3 separate regions of the Homo sapiens genome follow, and all the other regions are reported to be linked to region 1. Evidence: microRNA targets listed by miRTarBase, many of them from high-throughput screens and not tested one by one. Region 1 holds a microRNA gene; each other region holds the end of a gene's coding sequence.

Evidence for each region. Region 1 holds the annotated microRNA hsa-miR-145-3p (GGAUUCCUGGAAAUACUGUUCU, at 2,633-2,654, opposite strand). A microRNA usually pairs through its seed, bases 2 to 8, with sites in the 3' UTR of a target mRNA and lowers its output. Matches are read on the target gene's strand: a 7mer-m8 pairs with bases 2 to 8, a 7mer-A1 pairs with bases 2 to 7 and ends in A, and an 8mer does both.
Region 2: miRTarBase lists ABRACL as a target of hsa-miR-145-3p. Seed matches in the 3' UTR shown: 7mer-m8 at 669-675.
Region 3: the mRNA of PRPF38A is a reported target of hsa-miR-145-3p. Seed matches in the 3' UTR shown: 8mer at 726-733.

Annotation. Positions count from the first base shown.
Region 1 is chr5:149,428,010-149,433,352 of GRCh38, reverse strand. It overlaps MIR145 (microRNA 145), which reads right to left and starts at 2,707; the gene lies at 2,620-2,707. CARMN (cardiac mesoderm enhancer-associated non-coding RNA) reads right to left here. Exons shown (of 5, transcript NR_105060.1): 4 at 4,314-4,470; 5 at 517-635. MIR143 (microRNA 143) reads right to left here and starts at 4,435; the gene lies at 4,330-4,435. RefSeq lists enhancers at 1-56, 2,073-2,367.
Region 2 is chr6:139,042,444-139,047,443 of GRCh38, forward strand. It overlaps ABRACL (ABRA C-terminal like), which reads left to right. Exons shown (of 3, transcript NM_021243.3): 3 at 276-859. The coding sequence ends at 460. Among named protein-coding and RNA genes, the nearest start is that of ABRACL, 16 kb to the left of the region's middle.
Region 3 is chr1:52,415,825-52,421,167 of GRCh38, reverse strand. PRPF38A (pre-mRNA processing factor 38A) reads right to left here. Exons shown (of 10, transcript NM_032864.4): 10 at 332-4,520. The coding sequence ends at 4,478. Among named protein-coding and RNA genes, the nearest start is that of PRPF38A, 14 kb to the right of the region's middle. RefSeq lists a silencer at 4,017-4,311.

The sequences.
Region 1 (5,343 bases):
TCAAAATATGGCAGTTTGGAGGATCACGCCAAGGCAGATAACCATGTGAAAAGTGTCCTCATGTGCTGGCCACGCTGCCTATGGCACAGCTAATGTCCAGTGTTACTGCAGGGCCTGGCTAATGTCCAGAGGCCACTGTGAATCCAAACACCTGTGTGAGATGTGAACTGGCTTCACATTTCACACTCTTTCTTATTTGACCTGGTCAGTCACACCATTGTGACTGACAGAGAGGGGTTGCCACATGGCTAGATCCCAAGTGCCCCAAGAAGCCCTCACTGAGCTTCAAGGGACACTCTCCATCCCCTAACCCTCCATACCAGGGAAGCATCCCCAGACATGGCTGCTTCCTGGGGCCTCCAACTGCCAGGATGTGGGTCCTGACTGCTATCTATGTGGCCTCCCAAAGTGGCTGTGTGGAGCCACTTGGGGGTGTTCAGCTGGGCCTGTCAGGTTCTTTCCCTGCCTTCGCCACCTCCCCCCTTCCCCAAATTCCCAGAAAGAAACAGGACAGGAGCCAAGGGCTGGAACTTTATTATTGTCACAGAGCACAGGAGAGACCGCTTGGGTCTCAATGAAGGTTTGCTTTTCCTCTTCTCCAGGGGAAGCTACTGCAAGAAGGCCCACCAGCCAGGCTAGGTCAAATGGGGTTGGGGCCACAACATGATAGTTAAACCCATAAACACAGACTTGATTCGATCCCAGCTTCACGACTTCTTAGCTGTGTGACCTTAGGTAAGTCTGTTAACCTCTCTCAGCCTTGGCTTTGTGGAGTGGAGTGAAGAGCAGGGCCTGCTTCACTGGGGTGTTATCAGGATGGAGGGGGACAAGGCCTATGAAAGTGTTTAGCACAGCGCCTGGCAGATCGTGACCAGTCACGGAGTGGAAGCTATCATGATCAAATCTGATTTCTCCACGGTCAGGCCAGCCCTGTCACTACGGATGAGGAAGAGGGGGTCTCATTTCATAAATGCCTTCAATGCGGCCTGTGAGAAAGACAGCTTGGGACACCTGTGTGAGCTGCCTAGTCTCTGGCAATGTGGGAGTCGGACCCAAACATGAGGGTTCTGGGGCCTTGGCACTTACTACCATTTCTACATCTCCATGAAAAGCCCTAGCAAGAGTACGGGGAAAGTTCTAATTTTTTTTTTTTTGAGACAGAGTTTCGCTTTTGTCCCCCACGCTGGAGTGCAGTGGCGCGATCTCAGCTCACTGCAACCTCTGCCTCCCGGGTCCAAGCAATTCTCCTGCCTCAGCCTCCTGAGTAGCTGAGATTATAGGTGGCCACCACCATGCCCAGCTAATTTTTTGTATTTTTAGTAGAGACGGGGTTTTGCCATGTTGGGCAGGCCGGTCTTGAACTCCTGACCTCGTGATCCACCCGCCTGGGCCTCCCAAAGTGTTGGGATTACAGGTGTGAGCCACCGCGCCCGGCCGGAAAGTTCTGATTTTGCACCTGGATTACATTAGGTCTTCTGTCATTCAGTTAGTTAGCATTCTCTATAGGCAGTCAGAGAGGCTGACTTTTAAAATTATTTAGGTATTTTTTAGAGACAGGGTCTCCCTATCTTGCTCAGGCTGGAGTGCATTGGCTATTCACAGGCACAATCATAGCTCTCTGCAGCCAGGAACTCCCAAGCTCAAGTGGTCCTCCCCCGTCGGCCTCCTCAGTAGCTGGGACTGTAGGCACTCACCACTGTGCCTGACTTTTTATTTTTGTAGATTTTGCTTTTGGCTAAGAAATTGCCATAGGCCATTGGACTTGAAATCAGCGCTGGCCCTGCCTTTTGCTGTCTGGGCGACCTTGGGCTGGCCACTTTACCTCTCTGAGCCTCACTGATCCCACAGATCTACGTAAGGAGGGCTTTGAGGATGAACCAGCCTGTGGAAGTAAATGAGAGGAAGTGATGGGGGCATTGCTGGTGGTGCAACAATGGAGAGGGTTTCAGTAGTCACTGGCTCAAAAGTGAGGGGGCAAAAGGAACCTCAGTGTGTGTGTGTGTGTGTGTGTGTGTGTGTGTGTGTCCAACGTCTTGTAGCAAGGTTAGCAATCACCATGTGTAGGGGAAGAGCCATAGTGTTCCTAGGGTGGGTAGAGATGCCACAAGAGGGCGTTCTGAGTTTTCATCTTCTCTACCTTGAAAAATTTTCCATTTGTTCTCTGGCTGCATTCCAAATCGAACGAAGACTTAAGGTTTTTAGTTTACCTAACTGATTGAATACACTTTTAAAATGAATTCATGTGTGTTTACTAGTTTATCAGTCATGTGGATGCAATACCGCAGCCCCTGTCGCAAGGCGCGTTGGGAAGTGGGTTGAGGGTGTGGTGGAGACAAGAAACGCATGCCTGATGGTGTCCTGGTTCAACCGCTGCTCAGCCGGGTGGCCTTGGACAAATTTCCCAAGAGTACGGCAGTGCTGAAGTTCCCACATCCAGCCTCACAGGGATGTTATGAAATAGACACGATGGAAAGAAAAGCAACGCAAAGGTTTGGAACATGGTTCATAAGCCCTCTTACCTCCAGGGACAGCCTTCTTCTTGAACCCTCATCCTGTGAGCCAGCCGAGGCCCCATTGGGGGGCAACTGTGGGGTGGGAAGGAGGCAAATCCAGCTGTGAAACCATGACCTCAAGAACAGTATTTCCAGGAATCCCCATCTTAGCATCTAAGGGATTCCTGGGAAAACTGGACCGTGAGGACAAGGTGGGAGCGAGTGGCCTTCAGCGCCAAGGCCGCCGTGTCCCTAAGGACCAGCTGGAGTTCTCTTCTGCATCCAGCCCCATCTGTAGCAGCCAGGGTGGGGTGCCACACGTCGCCGGATGTGGCTTATTGCTCTGGGGGGGAGTAGTGACCGGAACTTCAATTGCCCTGAAAAGTACCGGAAACCCTCTGGCGCCCCCACCCCCAGGACTGCCCTCTGCTGTCTGCACGGCTCATGTGTATTCCCCAGTCTCCTGCCAGAGGGGTGGATTTAAACCAACCATTCAGTTCCTAGCCTGGGTTTGGCAACTTCCTCTCTGATAACCTCCAGTAAGTCACTTAACCCCTGAGCCTTGGCCTTCTTTAATTATAAAATGCATGAGTCCACGACCTACTGGAGAGGTGAGATGAATAAGATTGGGGGAAGGGGGTAGGAGGAAGGAAGCCTGTAGTATTAATGGCAAGTGTCCGGGTCTGTCTTTGCTAAAAGTGACCTGAGATGTAAAGACAAGATGGGAGCAGAATTTAGAATGTTCTCCTCCTGCTCCTCGGTCCCAGGTTCCATAATCACATGCAATGGGTAAAAACATGGATTTGAAGGCAGATTAGGGTACAATCTCAGCTCAGCACAATCAATATGTGACTTTAGGTGAGCTGCTTAAATAAGCCTCAGTTTTTCTCATCTGTAAAATGGGGCTATAACACCACCCACTTCCCAAGCTTTTGGGGAGGTTAAATGAGACTGTGCTTGGCTCCATGGCTCTCCTCTGCTGCTCATTGTGCTTCTGAAGCCTCTGGGAGAAGTCAGACATTTGTGACGTGCCTGGACTGGTTTCGGCAATACCCCGGAGCCAAGGTTAGAAGTACAGAGTGAAGACCCTGACTCAAAGGCCAGAATTTTTATCTTCAGGGCTGAAAGGGTTTTTAGGAATTGTTTGATCCACAAATGATGAATGAGTTTCAGCTGTGAATCAGTACTAGTGGCTTTCCAGGGCTCATTGTTGAGGATTCTGAAGCTGCATCTGAGCACTTCAAGAATGGATGCCTGGCGGGGCGTGGAGGCTCATGCCTGTAATCCCAGCACTTTGGGAGGCCGAGGCGGGCAGATCACCTGAAGTCAGGAGTTTGAGACCAGCCTGGCCAACATAGTGAAACCCCATCTCTACTAAAAATACAAAAATTAGCCAGGTGTGGTGGCGCACACCTGTAATCTCAGCTACTTGGGAGGCTGAGGCACGAGAATTGCTTGACCCTGGGAGGAGGAGGTTGCAGTGAGCTGAGATTATGCCACTGCACTCCAGCCTGGGTGATGGAGTGAGACTGTGTCTCAAAAAAAAAAGAATATATGCCTTTACTGATTAGCTGTGTCTGCCATGGGCTCAGAAAGAGAAAGCAGAGGCAGGGTGCTGGGGAAATGCTAACGCCTCATGCTAAGATGGACACACTGGGGTACACAGAGGAGTCAGGACATGCCCAGACTCGTGAAGCAGATCGTGGCACCAGGGGAACTTGTGTAGAGGAACTTCCCCAGCATCACAAGTGGCTGATAGTATGGAGTCTGGAAACACTCTGTCCTTCCTGTTATGGCCCCCCACAACCCCCCAGCACTTACCACTTCCAGGCTGATGGCTGCAGAACAACTTCTCTCTTCCTGAGCTACAGTGCTTCATCTCAGACTCCCAACTGACCAGAGATGCAGCACTGCACCTCAGGCTGGGAGACAGGGCGCTGCGCTGCTCCGCTCTGGTGGCCTGTGGCGGGACTCCAACCTGGCCAGGAGAAGGGGTGTTAGAGGGGACCTGGGCTCCACCTCTCCAGCTCTGGCCGGGAGGCTGTTGTAATTCCTCACAACTGTGTTTCCTGTCTGTGGCCTGCCATTTGAGCACCCAGGACCAAACCTTGACCTTTTTTCTCTTCTTTTCTTTGTTTCTTTCCTTTTCTTGTCAAGAACAGCTTAATTTAGAAGGAGGACATTTAGTGAGTACAATTAACAGGTTTTTAATATATTCACAAAGTTGTGCAAACAATGGCACAATATATTTTAGGTTATTTCACCATCCAAAAAAGAAGCTCCTTATCCTTAGACAACCCCTAGTCCTGGGCAGACCAGTTTCTATCTCTATAGATCTGTCTATATATTTTCTGGATATTTCAATACATGGAATTATTTAATATGTTGACCTACCTTTTGATGCCATGCCCCACCTTTATGCTTGGCGCATTCCAGCCTAACAGCATCATTCATGGTACTTAACATTTTATATCATCGAGCAATCAATTGTCTCCAACCTATCTTTCTTCTGCCACTCCTCCTCTCTTCCCAGCCATCTTCCCATAATGATTTTTCAAGATGCAAATATGCTCATATCTTACTCAAGTTTAATATCCCAAAAGGGCTCCCCATTGCCCTCAGGCTGAATTCTGAAGCCCTTCCCAAAGCCTGCGAGGGTCTGCCGCATCTAGCCCCAGTGACCTCTTCCTCTTGGGCTACAGCTCATAGATGTCCTTCCATTCTCCTAGGGAGCCCTGTGCCCACCCACTTCGGGCTCCCAGGGACTGTGCTGCTCCCCGTCACTCTCCCTGCCCATCTCTTCCTCCTGTGCTAGGTCTCTAATCAAGTGGCCACTCTGGGAAACCCTCCT
Region 2 (5,000 bases), not on the chromosome of region 1:
CTGCAGTATTAGCACTGTAGCACATTCAACTTTTGTAAATGTTGGTTCTCAGTCTTTGTCTGGATAATCCTAAGGCCAAGAGGCATATAGCATGTATTTATTCCATTACTTTTTGGATCAGGGAAGAGAATATGTTGAATTTATGACTGTTAAGTGTTAAATTGCAACCTTGGATAGCCCATAGTTATAAATTTATTAAAGATTTTGTAAGTCTTCCATACTTGAGGGTATGAAACAGACTTTGCATTTGCTAACAATGTATTTTCTCAAACTAGATGCTGATGGAAAGTTAAGCGTGAAATTTGGGGTCCTCTTCCGTGATGATAAATGTGCCAACCTCTTTGAAGCATTGGTAGGAACTCTTAAAGCTGCAAAACGAAGGAAGATTGTAACATATCCAGGAGAGCTGCTTCTGCAAGGTGTTCATGATGATGTTGACATTATATTACTGCAAGATTAATGTGGTTTACATATCTTTATGTACTGCCATTTTTTGTTTCTGGTAAACTGGAATATAAAGTGAAAGAACAAACATTTGAACATACTTAATGTATTTTTATAGAACTTTGTAAACGAAAGGAGATTCATGTTTTAGAAGTCTGTCCTTTTTTATATCTTGAAAGAAAATCTATGTATGATGCTATAAAATAAATCCTATTATTTTTCTCAGGAATCTGGTTAGGAATTGCAGGCAATGAGATTTTTTGCGGGGCAGGGATGGGAATGTTTGTTCATAAATAATTAGACATTTTCTATAGATATTTGACATTCTGCGAAAGCAACAAGCAAACTGAAGACCAACTCCTATGAGAAATATTATGATGTTTATGTAATAAAGACATGTAACTGTCTTAAATTTGCCTTATTTTGTCATTTAAGTATTTGTGTGCTTCTCAGAATTGAGTTTTTGCATCAAGATTAGGTAACTGCAGTAAAAGTTGTGTTACTCTGAAACAAATTCTCTCAAAACTACCAAATTTAAGTAATAGGAAGGGCTGGGCACGGTGGCTCACACCTGTAATTCCAGCACTTTGGGAGGCTGAGGCGGGCAGATCACCTGAGGTTGGGGGTTCGAGACAGCCTGGCCAACATGGTGAAACCCCATCTCTACTAAAAATACAAAAATTAGCTGGGCGTGATGGCACACATCTGTAATACCCACTACTCTGGAGGCTGAGGCACAAGGATCACCTGAACCCAGGAGGTGGAGGTTGCAGTGAGCTGAGGTCGCCCCACGGCACTCCAGCCTGGGCGACAGAGCGAGACTTGATCTCACAAAAAAAAAAAAAAAAAAAAAAGAGGAATGGTTAGTGTTATGGTTAGACCCTATACAAAATATTTATTTTGAGGCTGATTGTGTGCTTATTGCTGAGTTTGGGGACATGCCAAAAAATCTAACCTAAAAACTTCACATTCTAGTTGGGTTACACCCATCTGAAACAATATGGGATAATCTCTGATTGCATGTTACAGAATTTAACATGACTTGGAATGCCAAGGAGAATAAAAGCAGTGAAAGCCACAATGGCCAGGGGAGATATCCTGGAGGGGGCAGAACTTGCATGGAGGAATGATTGCAGCTGATTATCTCGAGGGAAAAAAAGATGGGATGATGAGGGTGATGACTGAAGGAAAGGCAGAAGGATACAAATTGGCAAGGCATGATCTCGTGAAAGGCAGGATATGAGGCCGACCAGAATGCTGGGGAGAGAGGTCGTTCATTGGACAATGAAAGTGGGACCTGGGAAATCAGGAAGAGGAATATGAACAGAAACTGGAGCCAGGACATTCCATGATGACAGTGATGTTTAGTGCAGATGGCCCTCACACTAGTGATTCAGGTGGATTGTAGAGAGTGAAGAAGTGGTCAGACAAGCCAGCTGAAATGTTGCTCAGGAATCTCATGGGGGTGACCATAACGCAAAGGCGGGGGAAGAATGAACTCCAAGCATGTTTTTAAAATCAAAGCCCTCTCATCTGTACTCTTTCTGCTGTGACAGGACCCCAATTCAAAGATCAAACATTAGAATTCACTGGCACTTGACGGTTATTGCTAACATTTATTGAGCATTTACAATGCCAATTCTCATATAACCCTGTGAGGTAGGTACTAATAGTACCTTCCATTTTATAGATGAGGTAAGTGAGGCACAGAAAGGTTAAGTAGCTTGTCCAAGTTCACCTAGGTAGAAAGTTGTAGAGTCTGAATTTTGAAATTGGACTCATCTAACTGGCAATTCCAGGGATGGCGTAGACTTTGAGCGTGGCTGGCTCCAGGGACTAAACAATGTCAAAACTCTCTGCCTTTCCATATTGGCTCTCATGCATTCTCTGGTTTGATCTCTTTCTACTGTAAATAGACTCCCTGCAGATAGCTGGGAAGATGCTGCTAGTAGTTGCAAATTCACTTATTTCTAGATTAGCAATTCTAGTAGAGGGAGCATTTATTATAATATCTAATTATGAATTCCAAGAAGGAAATTCTGATTGCTTCCACTGCAGTATAAACCTACCCCTTTGACCAATGGCATTTACCAAGGAGATGAGACACCATGAACTGACAGGCCACAGGTAACATGCTGGTTTCTCAGTGGGGATGGGGTGAGTTATTGTGCTTCACAACCTCATTTCAAATAAGAAAAGGGTAGTTTTCCAAAGGAAACGATGTTGGCTACATGGGAACGACATGGGTTCACTGTAGAAATAAGAGACCTTTTGAAGAATGAATCTTTACAATTATGTGGCAAAAAATGAAAAGGTGAATGAGAAGCGATGGTCAAAAGCTACCATCATATATGCCCTCAGTGACTGAGAGAATGATGAACTAATTAACAGAGGTGGGAAAATTGGATGGAGAAGGAGGGCTAGTTTCAGGGAGTTTGATCTGGGCATGGTAAACTTGAGGTACTTAAAGTAGAAATGTGTAGTAAGTAGGTGAGGATTTTCTTCTAGAACCCAGGCTAAGTAAAGGCATAGGAGTGTAGACAGAGACTTGGGAATTACGGTTCATGGTTGATTTTCACCTTAATTTTGATTTGTATAGATAATTCTACTTCTGACTCTCATTAGCATTAAATTGAAATTTTAATTATCAGGCACTTAGAAAACACAAAAGACAAACAATCTACAGGCTTTGTAAAAGTCTAGGCTGAGAAATTGAAGCAACCTTTAGATGGAAGCAATGTAGGAAGCCCAAAGACATCTAACAGAATTTTATGAGGCAGCTGACCTTGTGTAATCAAAAAGAATCTTAAAAAATCTATAGAAGTTGAAATTGTTAATCTGTCATGATTTGTTTAATGTCTTCTTGGCGAGCATCAAATGAAGTTTAGTTTTAACCCTTGATGATTTAACATTTAATGAACATCTTCCAGAAAAGGTATATTCATGTGATTGTTCAGTTATTGTAAGAAAACTGACAGAATATCATTTCTATCTACCATTGATATCCACGATACAGTTTTATGTATTTTCCTTTAGATTCAAGATGGTTAGTTCTTTGTATCAACTTCACATATACATAGTTGTTTTATTGGATCATGGTCTTAAAATTTTAAATCATAGATTTGATTTTTTTGAGCTATATTCACAGTGAAAATACTCTTTCTTGGCCATAAGCTGCATTGCAGTTAATTATCTCAGTAATAAGTGCCATTGGCTACAGTTGGCTGGGAATTAGAGATTATCAACAGTTGTATACCAACATTCCTTTATTCACGCAATGAAAATATGGAACCTCTACTTTGTTCAAGTCACTGTTCTAGGCGTTAGGAAGGACTAAAGCAAAGCAAAATAAGAATAAACAAAATTCTATTCTAGTCCTCAAAAAACCCCAATTAGTACTATATATTATTAATAAACAGTATAAAAGAAGCTTTGGGTAAATGATATAGAGATATGGGTGCAAAGATAAAGAATCATTCCTGAGGGGACCTGGAGGGCTTTCATGGATAAAGTGACATTTCCTGGGGCTTTAAAGCAATAGAATAATAGGGTAGGACTTTAGGGGTAGAGTCACTACTGCATACAAAGTCAGAGAAAGGCAAGTAATTTGAGGTACAGAAGGAAAGTAGTGTAACAACAGTTGAGGCCAGAAAGGAAGGTTGGGAACATTATTTTGAACCTTTAGGACAGAAGAAACAATTCTAAGTGTATGTCTTAATAATGGTGAGTTACAAAGAACTGTAAAAAAACTTACATAAAATATTTGATAAGTACCACTAATTATAAAGAAACTTTAATTTTTAAGTTCTGTAACATTGCTATTTTGTGTATTGAGATTAAATAAGACAATCTATAAGTATAGCTTATCATCTTCATAGTGAATGACTGTTCATTGAAAACTGATTAAAGTTACCACGTTTGCAGTCTTGAATTTTCTTAAGTTTCTGTCATAGAAAGTCCAAGCATACCCTAGTGTCCTGGAGTTACAATTTAAAAATAAGTTACTGGCTGAGTACAGTGGTTCACACTTATCCCAGCACTTTGGGAGGCCAAGGCAGGAGGATCACTTGAGTGCTGGATTTCCAGACCATAACAAGACCCCATCTCTACAAAAAAATTTAAAAAATTAACTGGTCGTGGTGGCGTGACCCACTACAGTCTCCACTACTTGGGAGGCTTTCATGGATACCTAGGAATTCAAGGCTGCTGTGAGCCATGACAGTGCCATTACACGCCAGCCTGGGTGTCAGAGTGAAATTCTGCCTCTAAAGAAATAAATAATTAATGGCCAGGTGCGGTGGCTCATCCCTGTAATCCCAGCACTTTGGGAGGCCGAGGTGGGTGGATCACGATGTAAGAGATCGAGACTGTCCTGGCAACATGGTGAAACCCTGATGCTAAAAATACAAAAATTAGCTGGGCGTGGTGGCACACACCTTGTAGTCCCAGCTACTGGGGAGGCTGAGGCAGGAGAATCACTTGAACTCGGGAGGTGGAGGTTGCAGTGAGCCACGATCGTGCAGCTGCACTCTAGCCTGGCGACAGAGGGAGACTCC
Region 3 (5,343 bases), not on the chromosome of region 1:
ATTAAAAATATAAATATGTACTGTATATTTGTTTATATCCCCTACAGATGGACATTTTTGCTGTTTCCAGTTATTCTTATATATACATATTATATATGTAATGTGTAAAATGATGATGGGATAAAGCTATTTGTGTGTACATGTAATTATTCTATTAGGGTAAATTCCCCTAAATGGGATTACTGGGTAAAAGGATCAAAAGTCCTAAGGTTCCTGCTACATATTGCCAAATTGCCCTTCATAAAAGTGGTTATCAATCTGTAGTTCCAGCAAACAATACGTAAAATGTGTTGGTATGCTTATAAAAAAGCTTTTAACTCCCAACAACTCATTTCTTCCTTGTAGAAATTAACATGTTTATTGTAAAAAGAAAATAAGCATTATATAAAAGTACAAAGTTTAAAAATCATTCAAAAGTTCATCAGCCAGAAAGAAGTACTATCTGGTGAACTTCATTCATTCCAACCATCTCTCTTAATCATACAGGCACATATATACAAATAGTTTTACAAAAGTGGGCTCATATGCTATATTTAACAAATATAGCAAATTAACAAAAGGAAAACAAGTGTGAAACTGAAAAAATGCTCAATTTAAATACTTTTTTCCCCACAAGAGAATCTAGTCTTGTAAGATTTCTCCTAAAATTAAGGACAATTACGGAAAACAATAAAGAGGCTATTTTTTTTTCTAGCTTCATGTATGTTTTAATTAGAGACTGTACGTGATTCCTGCTATGAAAGATGAAACCAGCACACTCTACTTGTTATTTCTATATAGACAGTGTTCATAATATTTGACTTTATAATCATTGCCCATTATTTTTAAAGTTTCTGAAGTGTTTACTAACACTCCTTTTACTGATTCTTTGTTCCTAAGTCCTTAATTTGATTCATTTCTTCTTTAGTTGAATTTCATTATTGGGCGGTTTTTTCCCAAAGACTCATGATTTGTACTTTTAAGTTCTTACAAACTTGAGAACATCTATAGCCTTTGTATTTTAAGACAACTTTGGCAAAGTATAAAATTCCTGGCACTTTTTCTCAAACCTTTGGAGCCTTTTGCTTCATTGCCTTCTTGTTATAAGATCTGAGACCATCCTGACCCCATTTAATTCTTTTTTCTTTTTGAGACGGAGTCTCACTCTGTTGCCCAGGCTGGAGTGCAATGGCGCGATCTCGGCTCACTGAAAGCTCCGCCTCCCGGATTCACGCCATTCTCCTGCCTCAGCCTCCCTAGTAGCTCTACCCGCCAGCACACCCAGCTAATTTTTTGTATTTTTAGTAGAGACGGGTTTCACTGTGTTAGCCTGGATGGTCTCGATCTCCTGACCTCATGATCCGTCTGCCTCGGCCTCCCAAAGTGCTGGGATTACAGGCGTGAGCCACCGCACCCGGCCAATTCTTTTTAAACCATCAGAATATTTCTTTATTCTACATATTTCTCTTTTCCATTTTTTATTTCCTCCAGCCTATTTTCTCTGTGCTGTTTTATGTTTTGTGGTTTCTAGTATAAGGCCTTTAAACTCCACCAATCTTATTTTTCATCTCTTAATCTCTTTTGAACTTTTTTTTTTTAAAGAGATCATGTCTGCTGTCTTTTTTGAGCAGGTGGAGAATTTCTGTCACATTAACCTTTTTGAGGGAGTGGGCAATCTGTGATCGTTCTTTTCTAAATAATGCTTATTTAAACTTCGGTCTACTGAAGAATAACAAACAGGAAGAGGTTAGAGGAATGAGCTTGAAGTTGGGTTGTTAATATTGGAACCCTCTCACCAAACCCATTCTTCTTCTTCTTTTTTTTTTTTTTTTGAGATGGAGTTTCGCTCTTTTTGCCCAGGCTGAAGTGCAGTGGCACGATCTCAGCTCACCGCATCCTCTGCCTCCCAGGTTCAAGCGATTCTCCTGCCTCAGCCTCCCAAGTAACTGGGATTACAGGCATGCGCCACCATGCCCGGCTAATTTTGTATTTTTTAGTAGAGACAGGGTTTCTCCATGTTGGCCAGGCTGGTCTCAAACTCCCGACCTCAGGTGATCTGCCCGCCTCGGCCTCCCAAAGTGCTGGGATTACAGGCGTGAGCCACCGCACCTGGCCAAAAATGCATTATTTCTTTTGCCCCTTGGAACACATCTCCCTTACTTTCTTAGTATTAAAAGGCGATTGTGCCCTATGGCAAAGCTTTTAAGTCAGTGTATTTCAAATTATTGGAAGTGAAATCGATTAAGTGGTTTCATCCAATATTAAAAACTGTTAACAAGTAGGAAACACCAGAATTCACTTTGCATAGTAAGTATTCTTTCCTGAAATTTGTCTCAGTACAGAATACAGATGTGTACAGAGGTAAGATGTAAAATACGTTTTTAAAATGTATGCTGTAGTCAAAAAGTTTAAAATGCTTCATCCATAGGCAAGCACATAGATGACAGAAAGAGCCTTACAGCAAGGTTTGTCCTCAAGCTCCATCTCCTGTGTAATTTTATCAAAACGATATCTACAGACATGCAACATGTCTTACTCTTACCTCCTTCTTCTAATTAAAGAATAGGGACATTCTCTTTCCTGCTATTGATTGGCTGTGGTACCTCAATTTTGGTCCACATATTACCATATGTCTAAACAAGTATGTTTTAATGTTTGTTTAGGGAGGTTTATTTCTGTTACTAAAATTTATTGGGCTTTGTGCGTGGGTTTATTTTTACTTTAAAACATATTTTAAGACAAAGTTTTATTTTAAGAGTGTACTGGATGACAGCTTGGTTGGTCCATGGGTCATTTCTGTCCATGCCAGAAGACATTTCTTTCTACCTAGATCACTTTCATAAAGAAATAACTGCTATGACACTGTAATACATTTACGTACAGATGCTTATATTTAATCTTAAAAGGTAGTCCTATATAGTTCTATCAGAAACCGTAAGAGCTCTTTCAGACCACTTTTATTAACTCAGGTATTACGAAAGGAACCATTGAAGAATATGAAAGCTCAAATAAGATTAAAAAATGCTTTAATACTGCTGAAGTCTTTCAATTCTAGAGCAGGCATAGAATATATAGAATGTTTACCTTATGACCAGATACAACCTCCCAAGAAAAACTGGATCCTGCAGGGCAGCTGGTCTTCACAGTTCCTGCTGGGACTACAGTTGCAGAAGTCATTCCATCACTTTTCTCTTTTTAAGGGAGTTAAGTACAGGTAAAGGAACTCTTCTAGCAAAGATCTTAATAATCTCTTGATTATCGATGTCCGTGGAGGCTTTTTAGTCCTTCCTTTGCTTCTGCATTCTTGACCCTTGGCTTCTTTCACTCACTCTCTCCTAATTCTCCTGTCTTTCTGAATGGGCCATTCCAGTTTTCAATAGGTGACTTCTATTTCTTCCTGTGTTGGTGTTGCCTATGGTTCTGTTGTGTGCATTTCTGATATATATTAACACTCTGGGAAGTCTTATTGACAGATTCCACCATTACTTAAACATTGTCAATTCTGGCCTAGATCGCTATGTTAAACTCTGGTCCCTATCTCCAACTTTATGGGCTTTTGTTTTTAGCTATACCATAGCTGTCTCAAATTAAACTTGTTAAACTGAATGCATCATTTTCATTACTACCACCATCCTCTAATTCTCTGCCCCTCTAAAAGCTGTCTCTTCCTGCTGTATTTTCTGACTTTGTGAATGGCACGACTGTCTAGCAATTTAGGTCAAAACCATGACTAATATTAGATACTTTCCTCTCCATCAAATCTTTTTCAATCCCGTTACCCTACTGCTACTGACTAGGCCTGGATAATGTCAATGCTTATATGATAAAGGCTGGATACCTTAACCTGGATTTCAAGCTTGTGGGCAAGAACAAATGAAACTATGAAAAAATGGGCTGTATAAAGGGTATTAAGTGCTGCTCTCTGTTGAACTGTTTGATGAAACTGGCTTTAATGATCCAGAAGCAGCCTTACATTTGAATGCATTCTATTCTTTCAAAACTGCTACAAACCAGTTTTCATGTTTATTACCACTTGCTGCTGCTGGAAAAAAGTTAGGAGCAACTATGTTTTACTCCTTTGATCTTTGAATAACAGCAGCAGCACAAATCCCAGGATTCTCAAAGCAGTTCCAACCACAACAAACCAAAAACTAAACTACAGCGAAATGGGAAACAGGTGTGTCCGGTTTAATAAAAAGGGAAAGGGTCATCAGGTGGCCACAGCCTTTCCTTGTCAGTCATATCCCCAACCTCCAGATCCTTTATACTCTCATAAGTTTGAATACAGTCAAGGTTAGTTGGGTCAAAAACTGATGTTGATTATGATTAAAAAGATACAAAACTCAGCACCTCCTTCATTAAAAATAAAGGTTGAGAAACTTGATAAGAAAAAAACTAAAATATTCTTATAGCTGCCTGGGGGAGATCTTAATCCTTCCACATACAGATATCCTTATATCCACAGGAGGCCATGTGGACTAAAACCAAACTGAGTCCATTACTCATTCCCTCTCCGGCTCTTCTTGTGGCTCTTCTTAGACCTGAAATGGCAACACATATAAATAATTATATTAAGAAGCAGCCAGGCACGGTGGCTCACGCCTGTAATCCCAGCACTTTGGGATGCCAAGGTAGGCAGATCACCTGAGGTCAGGAATTCGAGACCAGCCTGGCCAACATGGTGAAACCCTGTCTCTACTAAAAGTACAAAAATTAGCCGAGCATGGCGGCGGGCACCTGTAATCCCAGCTACTCAGGAGGCTGGGACAGGAGAATTGCTTGAACCCGGGAGGTGGAGGTTGCTGTGAGCCGAGATTGGGCCATTGCACTCCAGCCTCAATGACAGAGTGAGACTCCATCTCAAAAAAAAAAAAGGAGTCCTGAGAAAGACCTTGGTATGCTGACATTGATGGGGATGGAGCTGACACTCAATATTCATTAAACTGCTTGGTATTTTTTTGACTCAGAGCAACACTCTTGAGTCAGGCATTACTATCCAAATTTTACCATTGAGGAAATGACCTCTTAGAGGTTAAGAGTACACCAAACAGGCCCGGCGCGGTGGCTCATGCCTGTAATCCCAGCACTTTGGGAGACCGAGGTGGGCGGATCACAAGGTCAGATTGAGACCATCCTGGCTAAAATGGTGAAACCCCGTCTCTACTAAAAATATAAAAAATTAGCCAAGGGTGGTGGCGGGCACCTGTATTCCCAGCTACTCGAGAAGCTGAGGCAGGAGAATGGCGTGAGCCCAGGAGGTGGAGCTTGCAGTGAGCCGAGATTGCGCCACTGCACTCCAGCCTGGGAGACAGAGCGAGACTCCGTCTCAAAAAAAAAAAAAAAAAAAAAAAAAAAAGAGTGCAC